Linked DNA regions of Homo sapiens: region 2 is linked to region 1. Evidence: fine-mapped expression QTL. A gene starts in region 1. The other region holds a variant in brackets. All regions are shown on one strand. Distances are from middle to middle.

Region 1 (12,730 bases):
TGAGGCAAGAGTCTTGACCAGTTGAGTTTTATTGAGCCAGAGCCTGATAGTGCACCCTGGGAATACATGAGTTGCAAAAAACCTCTGTGGTTTGTGTTTTCTCTGAAGAGGTTTCAGGAGGCTTAGTATTTATACATTTGATTAAAGGGGAGAAGGCAGGTTGGAAGAGATGGAGTGGGCAGAGAAACAATTGATCTAATCTTGTCTTTCTTCTTTGCCTCAGAAAATAAATATTATCAGAATGAGAGTTAAAATACTTCGGTTTTAGGAGCTGGATTTGGATTGCTCACTTAAAGTTACAATTGGCATGTCCTTCTTTTACAAAGAAATATACATCTTGAAAGGTTTTGAAGCCAAGAAAAAACAATTTGTTCAGGGAATCATCTGGAGATGCCCGAGATCTTTGGCTTTCCTGTTTACCCCGTTCCTTTCCTTTCCTTTTTTTTTTTTTTTTTCTTCTTTTAGAGACACAACCTTGCTCTGTCACCAAGACTGGAGTGTACTCACTGCAGCCTTGAACTCCTGGGCTGAAGCAGTCCTCCCACCTTAGCCTCCCAAGTATCTGAGACTATAGGCATGCACCACTGCACCTGGCTAATTTGATTTGTTTTATGTTTTGTAGAGACGTGGTCTCCCTTTGTAGCTCAGGCTGGTCTTAAACTCCTGGTTTCAAGTGATCCTCCTGCCTTAGAGTCTCAAACTGCTGGGATTACAGGCCTCTGCCAGCACACCTGGCCCCCCAATTCTTCAAAAGCTTTCAGATAAAGCATCATAGAAGACATGACTTTGTGACTGTATGTTTCATCTCATCCTACATCACTAGGAAGGCTCATTCTTAAGAAGTCATGCCCCATGGAAAAGGGGATGAAGACAAATCAGAAAAGGGCAAAGGGAAGTCACAGCAAAAAAGGGACAGTATAATCCTGGAACCTTATTAAAGTCACACAACAGCTGCTTCAATTAGAGCAATTCGTTTGGCAAACATCACTCTAACCCTATAGACTAGGTTTTCTAGAGTTTCTGAAGCATCTTCCAATTGCAATGGCAATGTGACACATTTTTCTGAATTGCAGTCTGAATACAGTGTTCATGTGTACCTTTTGTGTAGTCCACACATCAGCAGGCACAAAGGTTGTTTATATATAAGTTGCTATGATTTATCCAGAAGTTTACATAAGTCGTCGAGTTTCAGCTTGCAAGTTTTAATCTATCCATCTGACAAAAGGCTAATATCCAGAATCTACAAGAAACTTAAACAAATATACAAGAAAAAAAACAAATAAGCCAATCAAAAATGGGTGAAGCAGATGAACAGATACTTCTCAAAATAAGACATTTATGTGAGCAACAAACATAGGAAAAAAAGCTCATCATCATTGGTCATTAGAGAAATGCAAATCAAAACCACAGTGAGATACCATCTCATGCCAGTTAGAATGGTGATCATTATAAGGTCAGGAAACAACAGATGCTAGAGAGGATGTGGAGAAATAGGAATGCTTTTACACCGTTCGTGGGAGTGTAAATTAGTTCAACCATTGTGAAAGACAGTGTGGCGATTCCTCAAGGATCTAGAACAAGAAATATCATTTGACCCAGTAATCCCATTACTGGGTATATACCCAAAGGATTATAGATCATTCTACCATAAAGACACATGCACACATATGTTTATTGTGGCACTATTCACAATAGCAAAGACTTGGAACCAACCCAAATGCCTATCAATGATAGACTGGATAAAGAAAATGTGGTACATATACACCATGGAATTCAATACAGGCATAAAAAGGGATGAGTTCATATCTTTGCAGGGACATGGATGAAGCTGGAAACCACCATTCTCAGCAAACTAACACAGGAACAGAAAACCAAACACCGCATGTTCTCACTCAAAAGTGGGAGTTGAACAATGAGAACACATGGACACAGGGAGGGGAATATCACACACTGGGGCCTGTTGAGGGGTGGGGGACTAGGGGAGGGATAGCATTAGGAGAAATACCTAAGGTAGATGATGGGTTAATGGGTGCAGCAAAACACCATGACACATGTATACCTATGTAACAAACCTGCAGGTTCTGCACATGTATCCCAGAACTTAAAAGTGTAATTAAAAAAAGATAAAAATTTAAAAAGCACAGTTTTAATTTATAATATACCAAAATGGAAGAAAAATGGAAGAAAATTCTGAAACCATTAGTTTTGAAATTTGTAGCCAGGAAAAAATTTAGGATTCAGTCCAAATTGTAGGTAAATAACAAAATTTAAAAAAAATGAACAGATCTAAAATGTAATAACCATTTTTCTGTTGTTTCCTTCTGAAAAATAATTTTCCCCCTCCTGTCTCCCATTTTTATGAAATAGAAATCATATGGGACCAATATATTTCCAAAATAAGTTTTAGTCTTATACCTGGATTGTTTACATAAAGTGCAGCAAGAATGTAGATTCAAGGCCTCTATGAATACATAAATTTTATATATATATATATATATAAATATAAGAATATATATATTCTATCATGTAGAATGGCACTAAACTATATTAATGGCAGCAAATCTGTACAAGTCTGTAGCAGCCTCAATTCTTGCTTCTTCAGAAGAAAGAATTCAACTAAGTGTCATAAGGCAGAAGAAGAGACTTAGGCAAATTTTAGAGCAGGAGTGAAAGTTTATTTAAAAGCTTTAGAGCAGAAATTAAAGAAAGTAAAGCACACTTAAAACAGGGCCAAACAGGTGATGAGATTTCAAGTGTGTGGTTTGACCTTTGACTTAGGCTTTTGTATGTTGGCATAATTCTGGGGTCTGCATCTCTTCTCCCCTGATTCTTCCCTTAAAGTGGGCTGTCTGCATGTGCAGTGGCCCACCAGCACTTAAGAAGGGAGCCTGTGTAGTGTGTTTCCTGGAGTAAAGTTGGAAAACAGAGACCAAAATAAAAGCTATGTATGGAAATAAAATTGGTCTCCTTATAAAATCCTGTTATAAATTTCTATCATTTTTGTGTTACCTTGGCATCTACTTTTAATCTTCCTTGAACACACCCAAACTCCTTCTCTCTGTGTGTGTGTGTGTGTGTGTGTGTGTGTTTGTGTGTGCTTTGAGATGTAAATTTACTACCTACTTTCTCTAAAACTCAGCAAGGGCTTCCTCAGATAAATGTTAACTTTTTCTATTTACAAAAGCACAACTTAAATCCAGCTATTTTTTTTAACAGTGAGTTTTATGTGTTCATGCATAAAGTTTTAAAATCAAAAATCTGAAGTATTTCTGTCTCCCTCTATCTTTATGTGCACAAGTATATGTTCTATGCTGTATCACATATCACATATGTATATGTCCATACCTATGTTTATATATTGTTTATACATGGTATCAAATTAATGTAAAAATAAATGGGTACTCATCAATTAAGTAAATAATACCAAATGCTTTTCAACACATGTGATTTTAGTAATCTTCAATAAGGGAAGAACACCTCAAATGAGCATGCATACCCACCTGCAGCCTCCTTAAAAAAAAATTATCAGGCCAGGCACGGTGGCTCACACTTGTAGTCCCAGCACTTTGGGAGGCCAAGACGGGTGGATCACAAGGTCAGGAGATCAAGACCATCCTGGCTAACATGGTGAAACCCTGTCTCTACTAAAAATACAAAAAAAATTAGCCGGGCCTGGTGGCAGGCGCCTGTAGTCCCAGCTACTCGGGAGGCTGAGGCAGGAGAATGGCGTGAATCCAGGAGGCGAAGGTTGCAATGAGCCCAGATCGCACCACTGCACTCCAGCCTGGGTGACGGAACAAGACTCCATCTCAGAAAAAAAAAAAAAAAATTATCAGCCAAGAATTTTGTATCCAGCAAAACTAAAGTTCATAAATAAAGGAAAGATAACAGTCTTTTTCAGACAAACAAATGCTCAGAGAATTTGCCACTACCAAGCCAGCACTACAATAACTGCTAAAAGGAGCTCCAAATCTTGAAGCAAGTCCTGGATACACATCAAAACAGAACCTCTTTGAGCATGAATCTCACAGGACGTATAAAACACAAATACAATAAATAAATGAATAAAACCAAGGTATTCAGGCAACAAATAGCAGGATGAATGGAACAGTACCTCACATCTCAATACTAACATTGAATGTAAGTGGCCTAAATGCTCCACTTAAAAGACACAGAATTGCAGAATTGATAATAGTTCACCAAGCAAGTATCTGCTGCCCTCAAGAGACTCCCCTAACCATAAAGTGTCACATGAACTTAAGGTAAAAGGGTAGAAAAAGACACCCCATGCAAATGGCCACAAAAGTGAGCAGGAGTAACTATTCTTATATCAAAAAAACTAACTTTAAAGCAACAGCAGTTAAAAAAGACAAAGAGGGACATTACATAATAATGGAACAGGGAGTGGCATTTGATGCTTGGTGTCATCCTAACCCCCACAGTCCCTGTAGTAGTTTGCTAGGGCTGCCATGACAAAATACTGCAGAGGAGTAGATAAGCAACAGGAGTTTATTGTATCACAGTTCTAGAAGCTAGAAGTCCATGAACTTTCCTCCTCTGTAAGAGGTTACAGTGCTTCCCATGAGCTCATATATATGGCAGAGGGAGATACAGAAGGAGCAGGTGCCACGGGAGTCTGATTCACCCATTGGGTCACTGGTGCCCTGGGACCTGCTTGAGCCTGACCCCATACACAGCTCTCCCTGGGATGCTGGAGGCTGCTGTGCACGCCCCAGGTAACTCAGATGTCACCAGGACACGATGTGCCACTCAGGTCCTAAAGCCCTTGGTGTCCTATGGTCAGGTATTCCAATTCCACTAAGCCCAGGGATAAGCCAAGAGCTGCTTCCTGAATGAAGAGTTACCTGCAGGAGGAGGCGTGGTCTTTCTCTAGAACGTCCAGTTCTGCACGGTGAATCTTTTGGAGCTTGTGAAAGCCTGCATAAAATAATACACTGCATTTGGAACATAGATGCTCTTACATTCATTAATTTCTTTTTTTTTTTTTTTTTGGTTGAGATGGAGTTTCACTCTGTCATCCAGGATGGAGTGCAGTGGTGCCATCTTGGCTCACTGCAACCTCCACCTCCTGGGTTCAAGCGATTCTCCTGCCTCAGCCTCCCAAGTAGCTGGGATTACAGGTGCCTGCCACGATGCCTGGGTAATTTTTGTATTTTTAGTAGAGACGGGGTTTCACCATATTGGCCAGGCTGGTCTCAAACTCCTAACCTCAAGCGATCTGCCCGTCTAGGCCTCCCAAAGTGCTGGAATTAGAGGTGTGAGCCACTGCTCCCAGCCTCATTAATTTATGAGTAGGCTCTTCCAGGAGTTATTGAGAAGAATATTTTACAATTCTAAGTGGAATATTTTAGCAGGAAGGACCGTGGTTTATTTCTACGATAATTCTGTTGTGGCTTAAACAGTTTGTTCTTTTATAATTTGGGGTATTCCCTCTACCACCTATTGTTTACTTTTGACCTTTGATATTTACCCTATGCAAATTCATCAACCCCTGATTTTACTTCTTCAAAGCCAGCATGAGGCTAGTCAAGCCTGGTTTCCTCTCACAGGAAGTAAGGCTTTTGCCCCATGGTATTTGTGTAGCCAGGTTACAGGAATTAAAAATCTATTGCAAGTGACAGTAATTAAAAAAAAAATCAAGTGCGGGCTACTCTGGAAGAAGAAACATTGGAATGTAGATTTTATTTGTTTATTTGCAGAGAGATGAACCAGCTTATACTCATTTGATTTCCACATTATTCATGGAGAGTCTAAAATCAATTTCTGGGAACAAAAAACCAACTTGAAAAGCTGTTTAAATTCTGTTAGTGGGACTTCCAAAGGTACAAGGGTTAAGAAAAAGAGAGGAGAAAAGAGAAAAGACGGGCAGGGAGAAATGAAAAAGTGACACCAATGTGAGCCAGACAATGGAGATGGAGAAAAAGCAGTCGAGAGGGACAGAGGGCACGGTGGAGGTCTGCAGGATCTGAAGATCCGCCTGTCTTCTCCGGACGCTCACCTCTTACCTGATCCCAGAAACAGACTGAGCTTTAACTCTGACCACACACTCCTCAGGGTGACGGAGAGTGGGGCCACCTGCACCCTGCCAGCCTTCCACAGCCCCTCTGCAAGGGCTCTGCTCCACACTCTACACGTGCTCTGAGGCCCCTTATTGCAACATATGACTTCCTCGGGCTTCCATTCCCTCCACCGCCTCTTTCTTCTCGCTCAAGCATCTTCAATGGTCTGGATACGTTTCTTTGCTTCCATTTGTCACCTTCCACTCACTCGTCCTTGTCCACTTCCATCTTCCCCTTTCTCTAACATTGCTTGTACTGAGATCAGCAACATCCTCCTTTATTGCTAAACCTGCCAGGAACTCAGAGGTTAGTTTTGCATCCTTTGACACTGAGGGCCACTTCTTTTCCTGGAATAATCTCTGTGAGGCAAATATACATTTTTAAAAACTTTGTTTAGCCTGTTGCAAAAAGATAAAGAGACTCTCCTCTTTTCACTCAGAGCATTTTCTATTCATTCATTTATTCATTCATTCATTCATTGACAGAGTCTCACTCTGTCACCCAGGCTGGAGTGCAGTGCTGCCATCTAAGCTTACTGCAGCCTTAACATCCTGGGCTCAGGTGATCCTCCCTCCTTAGCCTCCTGAGTAGCTGGGACTACACGCACACCCCACCATGTCCAGCAAATTTATTATTATTGTTGTGTGTGTGGAGATAGGATCTTGCTGTGTTGCCTAGGCTGGACTTTGAGATCATTTTTTTTAGAAGAGGTGTAATTGAAAACTCTTTCTCTATCCCTTGAAGATGTATGCAAAGCTTTCTAAAGCATACATAAGTATCTTGCCTGCCTCACAACCCAGAATTCTCCTCCTCAAGGCCATAGGAGACCTCTCTTTGAAAGGCAGGCATCCGGGCAGAAAGCACCCCTGTCTCCCAGTTTCTGTGAGAAGGAAGGAACCTCAGTTCTGGGGGCATCTCACTCCCAGTTGCAAAACTACCTCCTGTCATAGATGAGAGGTTTCTTTTTCCTGTGGATAAAGCCAATTAACCACACAGAGAATCAACACAGTTACTGGGTGAATTTAGGATGAACTACGTGTGACAAATGGTGCCGTTGAGTCCTCTCAACTGGGAACTAGTCACCATCTATCTGGAGACCATGTGTGTAACGGGTTGCACCTGCTTGGCTGGATACAAAGGTGGGATTTCTTTCTGTCTTTGTCATCTCTTAGCAGATTGCATCACATTTTGGCTTAATGCTTACTCAATCATAAGACAAGTTTCTTTTACTTCTATGGATGTGAGGGGGGTTTCTGGGCTGAGCAGAAATTTGTTTCTTAATTATATTTTTCCAGCAACCCCCACCCAACCTACCCCACCTTCTCTGAAGCTACTTCCCCCAGGCTTTAAAGGAGGCTGCTCCCCGGGGTTCCTCCCGGGCCCTGCCTCTCCTGGTTCATCTGATCTCCCACCCTCGAGGCATCGTAGATTCCCTCCCTTCCATGTGCTGATGCCTCTCGGATCTCTAACTCTAGGCAGAAACCGGCTTCTCAGTTCCTCAGCTCAAATACCCACCTTGGGACGGGCTTCTGCACCGGGACATCCCGCCAGGAACTCTCCCGGTGGAACACAGTCCATGTTCTCTGGCTGCCCTGCAGTTTTTAAATGCCACCAGTACACATGGGGAATGTTCTGCCTTCGCAAGGAGGAAGCTGGAAAGTTCATTTTCCCAGCACTCCTTGCAGGAGGGACACCGACACGGGTCCAGGCTTTCCCCATCAGGTGCTCCCGTGAAAGACTCAGGGTCCCGAACAGCACCAGGAAGCAGAGGGTGCATGACACCGATTTGTTATTGTTTTTGTTTTAATTTTTTGAGCAGGGATGGGGGACCGAAGCTTCTGGTGTAGAAGCTTCTGGACTCCAGCGCCAGCCTCAGCAGTGCAGGGTGCAGGGTGTGGTTTCTGCCTCCTGCAGTAGCCAGAAGATCTTGACCGGAGCTGTCCTGTGCCTGTGGTTTGTCCTTGCCCTGGGCCCTGTGGCCTCCAAGCCGGATTCATGAGGGCCCTTGGAGCTTGGTGACCTTCCTACCCTCTCCTTTAACCGGTCCTTTTCTGATTCTTGCTGGAGTGAGCTGGGCGGTTTTCTCTGAATCTGCTCCTGGGGTTCTCCCTTAGGGAAGGGCACCCTAGGCACCCAACCCCTCAGCCGGATGCCCAGCAGATGTTATCATGCTTCCACTTTCCTTGCCCCTTTATGTCCTGTGGTCACTCCTTTCTGTCCCTTCCATGTCCTACATCTCTCTCTGCTGTGTCCTGTCTTCTGCACCCTGTGGCCTCCACCCAAGTTTGCATCACCACCCATTCCTCCTTGAATGAATACAGTTGTCTCCCCGGGTCTCCCTGTCTCCATAGGGGCCAGCAGCATCCGAGCCAGCTTCTTCTCTGTGGCAGAGATGATCTTTTTCAGGCCTCCTCCGGCCATGGCCCTTTCCTGCTCCTCTTTCCAGAGCTCCCAAGTCCCCGGGATGCACTCCAGCTGCTAAGAGAGGCCTCGAAGGTTAGGCGATGTGGCCTCCACAGTCCTCCTGAGCAGCCACCCCACCTACCCTCATCCTTCAGCCCCATTACATTTCCTTTTTCTGTTTGATTTTTTGAATAGGTGTTGTATTTAGATGGCTCAGTAATTTCCATCTGTGTGTATCTGTATATGTGTGCAGGCATGAAGAGCCTGTGTCTCATCCCTGTTCCCTATGCACCCAGGTCCTAGCCCCACGCCAGCCCCAGTGGCCAGCTGTGCTGTTCATGACCTGCAAAGCTTTCTACAGCTGTTTTATGCAAAACAATAGGAATTATTGTAAATTATTGTGAAATATATATAACATAGAATTCACCATTTTAACCATTTTTTTCCTTTCTTTTTTTTCTGTCTTTTTTTTTTTTTTTTTTGAGAAGGGTTCCTCTTCTGTCACCCAGGCTGGAATGCAATGGCATGATCTCAGCTCACTGCAAACTTCACCTCCCGGGTTCAACCACTTCTCCTGCTTCAGCCTCCTGAGTAGCTGGGACTACAGGTGCATGCCACCATGCCCAGCTAATTTTTTGTATTTTTAGTAGAGCGGAGATTTCATCATGTTAGCCAGGATGGTCTCAATCTCCTGACCTCATGATCTGCCCACCTCGACCTCCCAAAGTGCTGGGATTAGACGCAAGCCACCTCGCTCGGCCCATTTTAACCACTTTTAAGTGTACATCCAGTGGCAGGAAGTACATTTAGGTTGTTGTTCAACCACCACCACTGTCCATCCCCACCCAGAACTTTTTCATATTCCCCAACTGGAATTCTGTACCCATTAAACACCAACTCCTCTTTCCCCCTCCCTCCAGCCGCTGACAACCACCTTTTCATTTTCTGCCTATGCATTTCATGACGTTACGCACCTCTGTTAAGTGGAATCATGTAGTAGTTGTCTTTTTGAGTCTGATTATTTCACTTAGCAGAAAGAACTCAAGGCTTAATCATGTTGAAGCACACATCAGAATCACCCTTCTTGTTACAGCTGAATCCCATTTGTTTGTACGCATAGACCACTTTTTGTTTATTCATTCATGGATGGATGGACACTGGGCTTGTTTCCAACTTTTAGCTATTGTGAATAATGCTGCTATGAACAAAGACATGCAAATATCTGCTGGGGCCCCTGCTTTCCGTTCTTTTTGGAATACACCAGAAGCCGAATTGCTGCATCTTGTGGTAAGTCTATGATTAATTTTTTGAGAAATGACCACAGTTGTTGTGCCATATTACAAACCCACAAACACTACACAAGCATTCCAATTCCTCCTCGCCAACACTTTTCTTTTCTGTTTTCCTTTTTTTTTTTTTATTGGGAACAACCATCGTAAAGGATGTAAGGTGGTATCCCACTGTAGTTGTGATTTTTATTTTCCTAATGATTAGTGATGTTGAGCATCTTTTCATGTGTTTATTGGCCATTTGTAAATTAATTTTACATTTCCTCCTTTGTAATGCAAGAGGTAGCACACCGTGCATTGTTCTGCTTCTTGTTTTTCTCACTGTGCAGTGTATCTTGGAAACCTTTCCCGGTGCACAGACAGAAGGATACCTCATTCATTGCCACAGCTGCACAGTATCCATGATGTGGATCATGGCTCATGACCCAGTTCCCTACGGATAAACGTCAAGGTCGTTCCTGGTCTGTGGCCATCACCAACACTGCCGCGACTAGTCTAGAATGGGTGCCATTTCATGCATTTGCAATTCCCAGAAGTACACTGGTTAGTCAGCAGGTGAGTGCATTGGTGAGAGGATGTGACTCCAATCTCAGGAAATATGGAAACCTTCTTCCCTTTCTAGCTGCAGCACCCCTAGTCTGGACAGCATATGGAAAGCACCCATGATCATTTGAAAATCACAAAATAACTCTAAATTTCTGCACAAGTAGGTCATCTACCACTTGTCATTCTAATCCCACACTAGGCACTTTAAGAACATGCACCCCTGGGCTTTTGCTACACTCTTTTCTTATGCTGGTACCCACCTTGTGGTGACTGAGGGTTCTCTTAATATCCCCAAGTCTGAGGAAACTGAGGCACAATTCGATTATCCACTTATGAAGTGGTGAATCTGTGGATTAAACTTATAAGACATATCCACTTCACACTCCAGAAAACTTCATCATTCCCAACATTATTGTCTTCCACCATTGGGAAAGAAATATTTTCCTTGGTAATTAGAGGAGAAAAGGTGTTTGGTGTTTCATTGTCACTTTCCTGGTGTGGAAAGTATCTACTTGCGGGTCTTTCCTAGGGCCAGCGAGTCCTAACATGTTTGAACATCTACCCATGCTATTTAAGGCAGCACACCAAACACATTCCTGCTTCGACTGCAGTATCTGTTTCATCAAGAAGAGTATTTTCCTTAAATAAGTTTGAGGTGCCTACTACTTGGGGAAATACTAAGCCTTTGGTATGCTTCTGCTCATCTAGGCATGAGACGGCTCCATCATTACTTTGGTCTTCAGTTTTCTGAATCTGCTTCTGGAAAACACTGCAAAATGTCATTTTTGAGAACTGCTGCTTTGCAAATACTTTTCATGCCTATGTGATGTGCTGTTATTCTCTCTCATTTCCTTGCTAACGTACAGTCATGCATATGAAGCAAGTTATGAGCCAGTTAAGACTGGATCTGAGTCAACTAGATTTGCATGCATTTTCAGCCACAGTACAGGTTCCTAAAAGTCATCACATGTCTAGTCTCAAAGTACTTATAGAATAGCATCTGATTATTATTAAGTAGATTTTTTAAGGCCTCTCAAGGATAAAGATTTGAGGTGTTATATCCATTGCTTTCCTCCCTCACACTGTTTTTGACTTTTAATTCTTCCCTTTCTCCACTTTAATTTCTAGTCTCCCACTGCTAATTCTCCATATGACCCATCCCCACCACCACCATCCTCAACAGCCACCAGTGAGAATTCTTACTACCTGAACTTCACTGTGACAAAAATCAGCCTTGGACCTGTGGGCTAAATTGTTCCAAAAGTCCTGATGAAGTTCTCAGATTCAGGCAAAGCTAGGTCTCCTGATACCCTGTCTCAGTCAGTTTTGCATTGCTATAAAGGAATACCTGAGTGAGGCTGGATAATTTATAAAGAAAAGAGGTTTATTTGGCTCACAGTTCTGCAGGCTATACAAGAAGCATTGCACCAGCATATGCTTCTGGTGAGGCCTCAGGGAGCTTCCACTCATGGTGGAATGGGAAGTGGAGCTGCTGTGTGCACAGATGACATGGTGAGAGAAGAAGCAAGAGAAAGAGGAGAGGAAGGTGCCAGGCTCTTTCTAACAATCAGCTCTTGCAGGACTGAAAAGAGAACGCACTCATTACCATGAGGGCAGCACCAAGCCATTCGTGAGGGATCCGCCCCCATGACCCAAACACCCCCCTGTAAATCCTCATCTCCAACATTGGGGATCAAATTTCAACGTGGGGTTTGCATTTTCCTGCAAACTCATGTGCTGTGCACTCCCTCATGTCATCTATGAATGATCACCTGCCCCAGGACTTCCTTGAAGGAATAGCTCAAATTATTTTCTAAGAGTTCTGGGGGTAAAAAAGCAAAAAAACTAACTCTACTGACACCCTTCTTTGTCTCCCAGTGTTTATGGAGCGTAACCAGTGTTCATAGCCCTCTGCCAGGCATCGCAGATACAGAGGTCAAGGAGATAGACATAGCCCTGCCCCTGTGGAACTTGTAATATAGTTGGGGAGACATATGAAACCATTGCTCATGTAAAGGTCTGATTGCCAATTATTACACAGGCTAGCAAGGGAAAGAACAGAGTCGATGACAGAACGGCTCTGGGCACCTAACTTAATTCAGGTCTTATAAGGCCAAGGAGTGGGCCTCACTACAGAAATGGTGTGGAAGGTGAAATCAGGAAGCAGTTGAAGTCCAGCTTCTGAAATGTTAGAACACAGACTCATCATACAACACAGCAATTCTATTCTTTGATGTCTACCCCCCCCAATAAAAATGAAAACATATGTCCACCCAGAAACTTGTACATGCATGTTCACAGCAGCTCTATTGATAATAAAAGGAGGAAATGACAAGAAACTACCAAAAGAGAACAATGTGAAGGACTGGGTGGAAGCTGGTTCTTCAGTGAAATCTCACAAATTCCAGTGTT
Region 2 (12,773 bases), 980 kb after region 1:
CACTGTGGTTGGACACCAGCACTGTGGTTGGACACAGCACAGGCTTAGGCTTATGATACACATCCTTCTCTCCCTACTCACGTGCGGGGCTGGCTAGGGGGCCCTTGGGGCTCTCCAGAAAGAGGAGCTGTCAGTACTGGGTGAGATCCTGGGCAGGTGGTGAAGGGCCCATGAGTGGGCAGCTGGAGGGAGGTGCCAGGGTCAAAGCCTAATAAGAATAAAAGAATGCAGAGTGTATAGGGGCCAAGGTCATAGTTTCTTTCCTCCCTCTCCCCACCTATGCTTTCTTCCTCTTCCCTCTCCAATATGTGGCAGATTGGCACTCAAATATATGTTGAATGAATGTTGAATTATCATCTTACCAGGGAAGGGAGGCAGAGAGACAGCAGGTTCTTGGTACAGCAGGCGGCACACCACTGGTGGTGGCATGGAGAAGCCTGGAGGCAGCCAGTGTCCAGGGACCCAAGGGCCAGGAGGCACCGGAGTCCAGGACAAGGGCGAGGCTTCCGGGGGATGGCTGAGCAGCAGAGGCCCACAGGAGTTCTGCAGGGGCAGAGGGCACAGGCTGGAGTTGGGTACAAGGCTGGAAAAGGATTGAGTGTATTCTGGGATACGGGCAGAACCCCAAAACTTTGGGGCTGGGAGGCCCTCGTTTTCCCCTCATTTTGCCTAGAGAAGAGCAGTGATTTGACTAGATTACATAGCAAACCAGGGCTGGGGCTAGAACCCAGGTGTTGAGGGCACAGAAGAAAGGGTCTGGGTAGGAACTAGGGTGGGGGACACTTTCTCAGGCCCCAGCCTCTCCTTACCTTCCCGGGGGGTGTCGGTGCCAGCAGGACTGCCCCATGGGGGGTCTGAGGCTGGGGTGCTATGTTCTCCTTTCCAGCTGTGAAGGACCAGGGAGAGCTCTAATGAGCCCTTTCTCCTGACCCCTATCCTACCCCAACCCCAGACAGTTCTCATCTCCCCCATCTAGCTCATTTTTTTTTTTTGAGATGGAGTCTTGCTGTGTCGCCCAGGCTGGAGTGCAGTGGCGTGATCTTGGCTCACTACAACCTCCGCCTCCTGGGTTCAAGTGATTCTCCTGCCTCAGCTTCCCGAGTAGCTGGGACTACAGGCATGCGCCACCAAGCCCAGCTAATTTTTGTATTTTTAGTAGAGACGGGGTTTCACCATGTTGGCCAGGATGGTCTCGATCTCTTGACCTCGTGGTCTGCCTGCCTCAGCCTCCCAAAGTGCTCGGATTACAGGCGTGAGCCACTGTGCCCGGCCTCTAGCCCATTTTTGACCCACAGAACTCGCTGCATTCTCTCAACGCTGGGACAGCTGAGGCCGAGGGAGTAGAAACCCTTAGTTCAAGGTCGTACACCAATTCAGCAGCAGGACTGGGCCTCTTTTTCCCATACCTGCCTCCTGTACCCAAACTCCTGCCCCATCGCTGGTCAGAGACACTCACAGGGGACCTGTGGCTGAGTGGTTCCCTTTCTGAAGTGGTTGGGAGCTTTGGGAGAGGCTTCCCCTCTCCTCATCAGGTGCTTCTTTAGCTGCGCCTCCTGCTGCCTACGCAAGGCCACCTGGGCAGCCATGACCCTGCGGCGCTCCCTAAAAGTGGGGAGTTGCAAGTCAAAGGTCAGCCACCCTTTGGAGGAGGCTCATCCTCCTCCCCTCCCAGACCTCATACTCACAGGATGAGGACACATTTGTGACACTCGCAAGCCTGGAAGAGGCAGAGGCGCTTGTGGCCCTTGAGATGGGCGGTGACACCATGGTTGCGGCAGCGGGCGCAGGTTGGAGAGCGGCTGATGGCTCTCCTGGGGATCAGCTCTGTGCTCTGGGGGTCTCTGGTCTCATCCCAGGGGGCAGAGTCTAAGGGGCAGTGGTAGCCAGCAGGCATGTCACTGGGTTCCATGGATCTAGGGGCAGGAGTGGAAGGTAAGCATAGCCAGGTGGGCCTGCCCCTAACAACCCTCCTGCCCTGGAGACCACACCTGCAGGTCTCCATCCTGCCCCTCTTTAGACCCCGCCCTGATTCTGGCTTCTTTCCCAGCTTTCTCCCCTCTTTACCCCATGACATTTCTCAGGTATCTTCCTTCTTCAGAAACCCCTCTCCTCTTCCTCTTCTGTGTTCTTTCTTTTTTTTTTTTTTTTTTTTTGAGATGGAGTCTCACTCTGTCTCCCAGGCTGGAGTGCAGTGGCACGATCTTGGCTTGCTGCAACCTCCACCTCCCGGGTTCAAGCGATTCTCCTGCCTCAGCCTCCTGAGTAGCTGGGATTACAGGCAAGAGCCACCATGCCCGGCTATTTTTTTTTATTTTTGTATGTTTAGTAGAGATGGTGTTTCACCATGTTGGCCAGGCTGGTCTCGAACTCCTGGCCTCAAGTGATCTGCCTGTCTCGGCCTCCCAAAGTGCTGGAATTACAGCCATGAGCCACTGCACCCGTCCCCCCTTTTTTTAATTTAAAAATTTTTAGGCCGGGTGCGGTGGCTCAAGCCTATAATCCCAGCACTTTGGGAGGCCAAGGCGGGTGGATCACAAGGTCAGGAGATCGAGACCATCCTGGCTAACACAGTGAAACCCTGTCTCTACTAAAAATACAAAAAATTAGCTGGGCGTGGTGGCGGGTGCCTGTAGTCCCAGCTACTCCAGAGGCTGAGGCAGGAGAATGGCGTGAACCCGGGAGGCAGAGCTGGCAGTGAGCCATGATCGCGCCACTGCACTTTAGCCTGGGTGACGGAGCAAGACTCTGTCTCAAAAAAAAAATTTTTTTTTAATTGTTTTTTATTTTTATAGAGACAAGGTCTCATTATGTTTCCCAGGCTGGTCTGGTCTCGAACTCCTGGGCTCAAGCGATCCTCCTGCCTTGGCCTCCCACAGTGCTAGGATCAGAGGCATGAGCTGCTGCGCCCGACATTCTGTATTCTTTCAATTCAAACATTCTTTTCTTTCAATCCAAACACTTTCCCACCCACACACACATCCTAGGTTCCAACCTACTCATGTCCTCACATACCCCTTCAGCGAGTCCTACATCCCCTTTTCACAAGCACCCTGTTCCGTCCCAACAGTGTTTCCTGGCATCCTCTTCAACAATGCTCACCCCACTCTCATGCATTCATCCAATGCCTACCAGTAGTTTTATGCCCCTTTCAATTCTTAGTTCAATTTCAATTCTTAGTCTCATCTATGCCCTGCAAAGCAACTGCCTCCTTGCATTCCTTTAGTCTTATTTTGTTCTTGTACCCCTTTAAATCAGAACCCTCTCTTGCACCCCCAATAATTACCTTATTCTCATGGATTCCCTGCTCCACTTTCTTTTTTTTTTTATTGACAGGGTCTCGCTCTGTTGCCCAGGCTGGAGCGCAGTGGCGTGATCATGGCTCACTGCAGCCTCCACCTCCTGAGCTCAAGCAATCCTCCTGCCGCAGCCTCCCCAGTAGCTGGGACTACAGGCTGGAGCCACTATGCTTGGCTCCCCTGTCCCACTTTCTTTCTTTCTTTTTTTTTGTTTTGAGATGGAGTCTCACTCTGTAGCCCAGGCTGTAGTGCAGTAGTGCAATCCCGGCTCACTGCAACCTCCGCCTCCTGGGTTCAAGCAATTCTCCTGCCTCAGCCTCCCGAGTACCTGGGATTACAGGCCTGTGCCACCACGCCCGTCTAATTTTTGTATTTTTAGTAGAGATGGGGTTTCACCATGTTGGCCAGGCTGGTCTTGAACTCCTGACCTGCCTCAAGCGACCTGCCTGCTTCGGCCTCCCAAAGTGTTGGGATTACAGGCATGAGCCACCGCACCCGCCACCTGCCCCACTTTCAAGTTATTTTCCTTCACTCCTTCATTCATTCCACAAATGGTTACTGAGCCCCTGTCATGTGCTAGGCCCTGATCTGGGCCAAAAACCTTCTCCTTGGGGCACTAATGTCTCTCTTGCGCTCACACCTTATTCAGGTTTTTGTGTAAACATGTGAAGTCACTGTGTCCAGCGCTTCCTGCTCCTGTGGCCACTACCAACAATTAATTTCATGCATGTCCCCCTCCCCCCTTCCCGTGCCCCAGGGAGCGAGTGGGGAACCGGGAACGCGCCAAGGGGCCCGCGAGGCAGGGAAGGGGAGAGGGGGCGCGAGGGCGGGAGGGGCGCGAGGGGGAGGAGAGGGGATGCCTGGGTTAGGGAGTCCGGCTAAGAGGGAGGAGGACGGAAAGGCAGGAGGGACCGTGTTCGTGCAGCTAGTTCACGGTTACCACAGCCTCCAATGGAGTCAGATTCAGTCAAGAAGACGCCCAAAGACACTGTGAGAAAGTGGCCAGAGGAACCGCCAAGCTCGCGCTGCTTTTCTTACCCTGTCTCACAAAGACCAATGAACTTCAAGCATCGCCTCTCTCAGCCGAGGCAGACGACCAATGCGGTTTGAGATCCTGAACTGATGTCCCGCCCCTTCCCTTCTGCCAGCTTCTTGGCGCACAAGACTATCAGTCCCACCAATAGCGCTTCGAGTTGAGCCTCGCGCCACCGCTGCCTCTCCCTCCGCACGTCCTGCCCGCCCAGACTGTCTTCCCCCTTTCGAGGCAGGTGGCCAATGGGGCGTCGAGTACCCCTTATTGGACCGAGGCTGGCCCCGCCCCCCAGGAACGGCCCGCCTGGCCCCGCCCCTGGGGCGTTGACCAAGCCCGGTCTGTGCACGGGTTGCCTCGTTTCTGGCCTTCCCTTGCCTTGTACCTCGACTTCGCGCGTGGCTTGTTTTTGCTGAGTGGAGGCCTGCGTTTTCTGTTATGTCTCTTCCGGTGCCCCACAACTCCTGAGCTACCCTTCTTTTATGCGTTCTCTCCCAGCGCTGTGATTACCGGGTTGCTTACCGGGCCCTCCTTCCTCAGATTGCACCCCTTTCCTTGTGTCTCTTCTTGTCTTTGTGTCGGTTGTGATTTTCCTAATCTCTGATTTTCCTTTTCTCTCGGACGCTCTCCCTCTTCGGACCCATTTTCTCCCGTGCTTCATGCCCTGATAGCCTGGCCCCTTCCCGGCTTCCTTCGCTACCGGGGACGCCTCTAGTTTTTCTGAATTTCTGGCTGGCTCCACCCTCCGCGTTCATCTTCCTCAAGAGTTCGCCCCTCTGGGGGCTCCTCTGTGTAATCGTCGCCTTCTCTGGGTATTTCTGTGAACTCCGTCTCACACCATCCCGCCATCTTCTCTGCCTTGGCCCCTTTTCTCTGTACAGCCAGCTCTGTGTCCTTTTCTTCTCCCCCTCTAAAATCGACTCCTCTTCTCCCTGAGAGCCCCACCTTTGTGCCCCACTCCTCATTTTCCTACGCCTCCCTCTCTCTGCTGGTCCTCTCTCTCCCTGCAAGGTTCCATTCCATCAATTTGTTTGTCTTTTGTAGGGGTGGCATCCCCTCTGACTACTGCTCCATCCTTTTTTTTTTTTTTTTTTTTTTTTTTTTTGCTTGAGGATTTCACTTCAATCTTTTCTGGTTGCGTCTCCACTTGTACTCAGCTTGTTAGGTCCAGGTCCAGTTGTTCTGCATCTGAGGCTGGCGTGTGCTGTCTTCTCTGATTGGCCTAATCTCCCTCACCCCCGTGAGATCTGTTGTCAGCCTTCGTTTCTCTTTCCTGTGTCCCAGCTTTTCTGCGGGTCTTGGCACCTTTCTTGGCCACAGATTTCTGGGTTACAGAGCATGTGTGTCTGAGGCATTGCAGGCAGAAAAGGGTGGCCGACGTGACCTCTAGCTGGACTGCTGGGCAGGGGAGCTGTCCTAGATAAAATTGGAAAGGTTGGGTGGCGCTTATCTGGGGTGGGGTGGGGTGTGGTCGGGGGAGGCTTAAAGGCCAGCTAAAGAGGTTGAACTTGATCCTTTAGGTAGTGGAGAGAGAGTGAGAGGAAGTGTGTGTGGGAGGGAGGGATAGTGGTAGAGGAACAGGGTAACCAACGATTATAAAGAGCTTAGCATTTGCCTAATACTTATGGTAATAATTTTATTGATCTTCACAATGACCCTATGAGATGTATTATACTTCATTTTATAAAGAAGGTAGTAGGCTCTGAGTTCAACAAATTGGACAGCTAGTAAATGAAGGGGTAAAGATTCCAACCTGGGTCTCTGAGGCCAAGGTCAGTGATCTTTGTACCCCCTCCTACACTGTTATTTTCCACCAATTCCCCACTTTCATTCCCTAACCTTCTTATAGGCAATTCTCATTCTAAGGTGGTTAATATGTATCTTTTGGTTTGTGTGTGTGTTCTCCCAGGATGTGTGTAGTGTTGTTGTTGGGGTTTTTTTTTTTTTTTTTTTTTTTTTTTTTTTTTTTTTTTTTTTTTAGCGATGGGGTTTTGCCATATTAACCAGGCTGGTCCAGAACTCCTGGCCTGAAGTGATCTGTCTGCCTTGGCCTCCCAAAGTGCTGGGATCACAGGCATGAACGACCACACCCGACCTCTGTTTGAGTTTTTAATTTATGCAAGTGATATTATGTTATATACTATTTGTAATAATCAGCACTGTGATTTTACAATCTATCCATGTACACATTCTGTCATTCTGTCATGATGTGTACTTTTTTTTTTTTTTTTTTTTTTT[TTTTTTTTTG/G]TTTAGACGGAGTTTCACTCTTATTGCCCAGGCTGGAGTGCAATGGTGTGATCTTGGCTTACTGCACCCTCCACCTCCTGGGTTCAAGCAATTCTTCTGCTGCCACAGCCTCTTGAGTAGCTGGGATTACAGGCTCCCACCACCACACTCGACTAATTTTTGTATTTTTAGTAGAGTCAGGATTTTGCCATGTTGACCAGCTTGGTCTTGAACTCCTGACCTCAGGTGATCCGCCCACCTCAGCCTCCCGAAGTGCTGGGATTACAGGCGTGAGCCACTGTACCCTGCCTCACATCCTGTGTACATCTAATCAACTTCTTCCAACTCCTGCGTGATATTCCATAGCGTACATCCCCAGCATGTTTTGCATTCACTTGGTCTCAGAGAGGGAAGCTCCCATTGTCTCAACCTACCATCACCACAATAATGCTGCATTCTCTGGGCATGGGAGCTCATGCCTGTAATCCCAGCACTTTGGGAGGCCGAGGTGGGTGGATTGCTTGAGCCCAGGAGTTTGATAACAGCTGGGGCAACATGGAAAAACTCCATCTCTACAAAGCTGGGTGTGTTGGCGCACACCTGTAGTCCCAGCTATTTGGGTGGCCGAGGTGAGAGGATTGCATGAGCCTGGCAGGTGGGGGCTGCAGTGAGCACAGCTGTCCTCCAGCCTGGGCAACAGAGCGAGACCCAGTCTCAGAAAAAAAAAATGCTGCATTATTGTGCATGTTCCTTTGTAGATGAAGGTGGACATTTTTGTAATACCTATGTAGGGTATACTGGAAATGGGTATTTATAAACCCAATTTGACCATGTAGTGTCAGACCCCTGCAATGCTGCTTTGGGCCTGAGATCCTGGTCAGAACTCTCAACTCCTTTGTTTCTCAGAGTCCAGAAATAGTGTTTTATTCCCCAGCCCTCCAAATAATGCCATGAGCATCAGGGGCCAAGGGTTCCTTTATCCCCACATACCTGCCAACACTTGTCTTTTCCCAGCTTTCTGATCCTTACCAGTCTGATAGATGTACAATTTGACAGATTGCATTTCCTTGGTTATTGCTGGGTTTGTGCATTTCTTCACTTTTTTTTTTTTTTTTTTTTTGAGACAGGGTCTTGTTCTATTGCCCAGGCTGGAGTGCAGTGGCATGATCTCGGCTCACTGCAACCTCTGGCTTCCGGGTTCAAGTGATCCTCCCTCCTCAGCCTCCCTAGTAGCTGGGACTGCAGGCACGTACCACCACACCGGGCTAATTTTTGTATTTGTAGTAGAGACAGTGTTTCACCTTGTTGGCCAGGCTGGTCGCGAACTCCTGACCTTGTGATTTGAGGCTAAAGCAATCCTTCAACATTAGCCTCCTGAGTAGCTGGGACTACAGGCACTCCCATGCTTGGCTAATTTTTAAACTTTTTTTTTTTTTTGGTATAGACAAGGTGTTGCCCAGGCTGGTCTCAAATTGCTGACCTCGAGCAGTCCTGGCTCAGCCTCCCAAAGCACTGGAATTACCGGCATAAGCCACTGTGTTGCCCAGGCTGGTCTTGAACTCCTGACCTCAAGGGATCCTCCTGGCTCAGCCTCCCAAAGCACTGGGATTAGAGGCATGAGCCACTGTGCCGGCCTGCATCTTCTCCCTTGATCAGATTTGCCAGCGAACTAACTAAATCTTTTCATAGAATGGATCTTTTTTGTAATAATGTTTGTTGTTGTTTACTATTTCATTGATTTCTGCTATCATCCTTATTTCCATTCTTTTTTGGGTAGGAGAGAATTGCTTTGTTGCTCCTTATACAATTTCTTGAACTAGTTCATGAATATATTTATTTTTTAATGCTTCACATTTCCTGATACATGTATTTAAAAGTATAAATTTACTTCTAAATACTGCTTTAGCTGTGTCTCAAATTTTGATGTATATATTTTATTTTATTTTTTTTTTTTTTGAGACGGAGTTTCGCTCTGTCGTCCAGGCTGGAGTGCAGCGTCGCAATCTTGGCTCACTGCAAGCTCCGCCTCCCGGGTTCACACCATTCTCCTGCCTCAGCCTCCCAAGTAGTTGGGACTACAGGCGTCCACGACCATGCCTGGCTAATTTTTTTGTGTTTTTAGAGATGGGGTTTCACCGTGTTAGCCAGGATGGTCTTGATCTCCTGACCTCGTGATCTGCCTGCCTCGGCCTCCCAAAGTGCTGGGATTACAGGCGGGAGATACTGTGCCCGGCTGTATATATTTTAAAAACCCTTTAATTTTGAAATGATTGTTGGCTCACAGGAAGTTGCAAAAGTGGTACATAGAGTCCCTTGGATCCTTCCTCCAGTTTCCCTGTAGGGGCATCTTATATAACCATAGTATATGAGCAGGAAATTGACATTTGTACAATACTGTTTGTACAGTCATAGCTCACTGCAACCTCCATCCCCGGGGCTCAAGTGGTCCTCCCACCTCAGCCTCCCAAGTAGCTGGGACCACAGGTGCATGCCACCATGCCTGGCCAATTTTTGTATTTTTTGTAGAGATGGCATTTTGTCGTGATGCCTGGGCTGGTGTACAGTACTCTTACCTAGACTTCAGACCTTATTCAGTTTACAGCAGATTTTACATGCACTTATGTGTGTGTGTGTGTGTGTATGTGTGTGTCTGTCTGTGTCTATGTCTGTGTGTGAATGTGTGTGTTATGTAATATGTTTATTATTATTCAGTTCTAAATACTTTTTTTTTTTTTGAAATGGAGTCTCTGTCTCTGTTGCCCAGCCTGGAGTGCAGTGGCGCGATCTCGGTTCACTGCAACCTCCGCCTCCTGGGTTCAAGCGATTCTCATGCTTCAGCCTCCTGAGTAGCTGGGACTATAGGCTCGTGCCACCACCCCTGGCTAATTTATATTTTTTAGTAGAGATGGGGTTTTACCATTTTGGCAGGCTGGTCTTGGACTCCTGACCTCTGGTGATCCACCTGCCTTAGCCTCCCAAAGTGATGGGATTACAGGCGTGAGCCACTGCTCCTGACCTCAGTTCTAAATACTTTTAAATTTCCATGTTGAACCAAGGGTTATTTAGTGATATGTTAACTTACACACACACACACACACACACACAACACACACGAGTTTGAAACATCTATTTGTTTCTCTGATCTCATTGCCTCTGGCTGGAGAACAGCCTGCATATCAGTAAGCCAGGATTCTCTGCTCAGCACCTTGTCCAATGGGAGGACCTAAGTGGGAGAGTGAGAGTCCTGCTTTGAGAAGCTAAGATGGTGGATGGTGCAGGTTAGACTGGAGGGCAGACAGTGGAGATGGGAAGACCTGTGACCCAGAAGGTCTGAGGGAGCCTATGTCCTAGAAGCTGATGCAATCAACTTTCTGCTCCAGAAACAGTGACCCAGAGACAGGTGGACAAAGAATTCGGGGACTGATGGGAACTGAGCTTGGGATCCAGACTGAAACTGATTCCAGACTGACCTCTAGCACCCAGGACCCAGACACAGGGCCATGGGACCCCAGCATTTGAGACTTGTGCAGCTGTTCTGCCTTCTAGGGGCCATCTCCACTCTGCCTCGTATGTCCTGTGGGGCTGGATGCTATAAGACCCAGAAAGGTGGGAGGCTGGATTCATGTCACTGGTGGAACGAGGGCTGGGTATCTAGGTTTCGCTGGGGACAGGACCTGTGGGGGCTGAACTCTTGGTTGGCAGTTAACGGGCTCAGAAGATGATATGAGGGGCCAATGACTGGGAGAGCATTCTCTTTTTAGGGGCTGGAGCTCTTTTGTGCTATGAAGCAACAGCCTCAAGATTCAGAGCTGTTGCTTTCCATAACTGGAAGTGGCTTCTGATGAGGAACATGGTGTGTAAGCTGCAAGAGGGCTGCGAGGAGACGCTAGTGTTCATTGAGACAGGTGAAGCAGTCTAAGTTTGATCAATTTCGTTTTGCTTGCTCTTCTGACCCCCAGCTCCACTCCCAGCACCGAGGGACTGTAGATTAGAATTCCACATAGTTACTATACATATATATATATATGTATATATATTTTTTTTAATTTTTTTTGAGATGGGGAGTTCTTACTATGTTGCCCAGGCTGGTCTCAAACTCCTGAGCTCAAGCGATCTGCCCACCTTGGCCTCCCAAAGTGTCCGGATTACAGGCATAAGCCACTGTGCCTGGCCATCATTTATATCTGGATAATGTCAGGACACTGGCAGGAGAGGGGCAGGGCCCCACTGGTTGTGTTGTGGGCTGGGTAAGTGGGTAGAATGGAGGTGGACAGATCCCTGGAGGAGGGCACAAGGGAGAGAGGAGTGGGGGCTGGGGGAGGTCCTGCAGTGGAAGAATGAGGAGATCCAGATGGAGACCCCAGCATCTGAGCCCTGTGCAGCTGCACTGAGTGGACACAGGGGTTGGGGAGGGAGGCACAGATTGTGACAGGCAGGGTGGGTGCAGAAAGAGCTGGGGGGAGGGAGGACTCTGGGTGAGGCCAGTGACACTGATCTGAGCTCTCTCAATCCTCTGCTCCTCAGGGACTGCAAGGGGAGTCGTGGGCTTTAAAGGCTGCAGCTCGTCTTCGTCTTACCCTGCGCAAATCTCCTACCTTGTTTCCCCACCCGGAGTGTCCATTGCCTCCTACAGTCGCGTCTGCCGGTCTTATCTCTGCAACAACCTCACCAATTTGGAGCCTTTTGTGAAACTCAAGGCCAGCACTCCTAAGTCTATCACATCTGCGTCCTGTAGCTGCCCGACCTGTGTGGGCGAGCACATGAAGGATTGCCTCCCAAATTTTGTCACCACTAATTCTTGCCCCTTGGCTGCTTCTACGTGTTACAGTTCCACCTTAAAATTTCAGGCAGGTGAGAGGAGAGGAATATTGTTTATCAAATGCCTACTCTCTGCCAGGCATTGTCCAGCACCTTCACATCTCAGAGAGGCTGGTGGGATCCAGAGATGGGATTGGGGTTGCAAGGGACAGGGCACATGAATTCCAAGGAGGAAGGGGAAGGCGCCTGGTGCCTAAGTCTCTCATGGGAGAGCAGGTGTTCTGGTTTGTGAGGGGCCTCTGGGGAGAAGGCAGGGGCCTTTTTTTTTTTTTTGAAATGGGAGTCTTGCTCTGTTGCCCAGGCTGGAGTGCAGTGGTCCGATCTCGGCTCACTGCAACCTCTGCCTCCCAGGTTCAAGTGATTCTCATACCCTAGCCTCCTAAGTAGCTGGGATTATAGGCATGTGCCACCATACCTGGCTAATTTTTGTATTTTTAAGGGAGATGGGTTTTTGCCATGTTGGCCAGGCTAGTCTCAAACTCCTGGCCTTAAGTCCTCAAGTGATCCACCTGCCTCGGCCTCCCAAAGTGCTGGGATTACAGGTGTGAGCCACTGCACCTGGCTGAAGGCAGGGCTCTTGAGTCTTGAAAGTGTTCCTGACTTCTCCCTCTCTTCCTTACAGGGTTTCTCAATACCACCTTCCTCCTCATGGGGTGTGCTCGTGAACATAACCAGCTTTTAGCAGATTTTCATCATATTGGGAGCATCAAAGTGACTGAGGTCCTCAACATCTTAGAGAAGTCTCAGATTGTTGGTGCAGCATCCTCCAGGCAAGATCCTGCTTGGGGTGTCGTCTTAGGCCTCCTGTTTGCCTTCAGGGACTGACCATCTAGCTGCACCCGACAAGCACCCAGACTCTTTCACATAACAAATAAAATAGCAGAGTTCCCTTTCTGCATTGTCCTGTGGTCCATGAGAGAGCAGGGGTGAGGAAGGTGTGAGGAAGGCCAAGCATGTCCAGGGAGGTGGGGACCCAGGAAGAGGAGCCTGGCAAAGTGACAGTGTCCTGCCCAGCAACTGGGGGAGCTGAAATATTCCTTTTCTCCTTCCCCTTCCTCTGGAGGCTTGAGCTCCAGCCTGGGTTCAGCTACTAATCAGGGTCTGATTTCCGAGACCCTGGCCAAATCTCTCCCTTTTTATGGGCCTCAGTTTCCTCCTCTTTAAAAGGAAGGGTCTTATGAGTTAGAGAAGAGCCTCCTCAGGCCAATTCTTTTTTTTTTTTTTCCTTTTTTTGACATGGGGGTCTGTCTCACTATGTTGCCCGGTCTGGTCTCGAATCTTTGGCCTCAAGTGATCCTCCTGCCTCAGCTTCCCCAGTAGCTGGGATTTTACATGGGAGCGACTGTGTTTGACCACCAGGGTGATTATTATCTGGGATTACTTACTGAGTATCTACTATGTGT

Direction of the effects. Alleles are on the strand shown, and positions count from the first base shown. SD is a standard deviation of normalised expression in the study named.
For the expression in prefrontal cortex of the gene that starts at base 9,508 in region 1, allele G in region 2 goes with a higher level than allele TTTTTTTTTG (moderate effect, 0.60 SD a copy in ROSMAP).

Evidence for each region.
Region 2: its variant is fine-mapped to the expression of PSG8-AS1 in prefrontal cortex (ROSMAP, PIP 0.95).

What each region holds. Positions count from the first base shown.
Region 1 is chr19:42,818,641-42,831,370 of GRCh38, reverse strand. PSG8-AS1 (PSG8 antisense RNA 1) reads right to left here and starts at 9,508. Exons shown (of 4, transcript NR_036584.1): 1 at 9,458-9,508; 2 at 7,596-8,558; 3 at 6,027-6,439; 4 at 4,493-4,938.
Region 2 is chr19:41,836,565-41,849,337 of GRCh38, reverse strand. It overlaps LYPD4 (LY6/PLAUR domain containing 4), which reads left to right and starts at 4,655. Exons shown (of 5, transcript NM_173506.7): 1 at 4,655-5,760; 2 at 9,933-10,119; 3 at 10,314-10,457; 4 at 11,077-11,403; 5 at 11,993-12,264. The coding sequence starts at 10,053. The coding sequence ends at 12,195. DMRTC2 (DMRT like family C2) reads right to left here and starts at 4,296. Exons shown (of 9, transcript NM_001040283.3): 1 at 4,237-4,296; 2 at 1,686-1,913; 3 at 1,457-1,602; 4 at 810-886; 5 at 363-543; 6 at 82-208. The coding sequence starts at 1,909. The variant TTTTTTTTTG/G (reference allele first, on the strand shown) is at 6,565.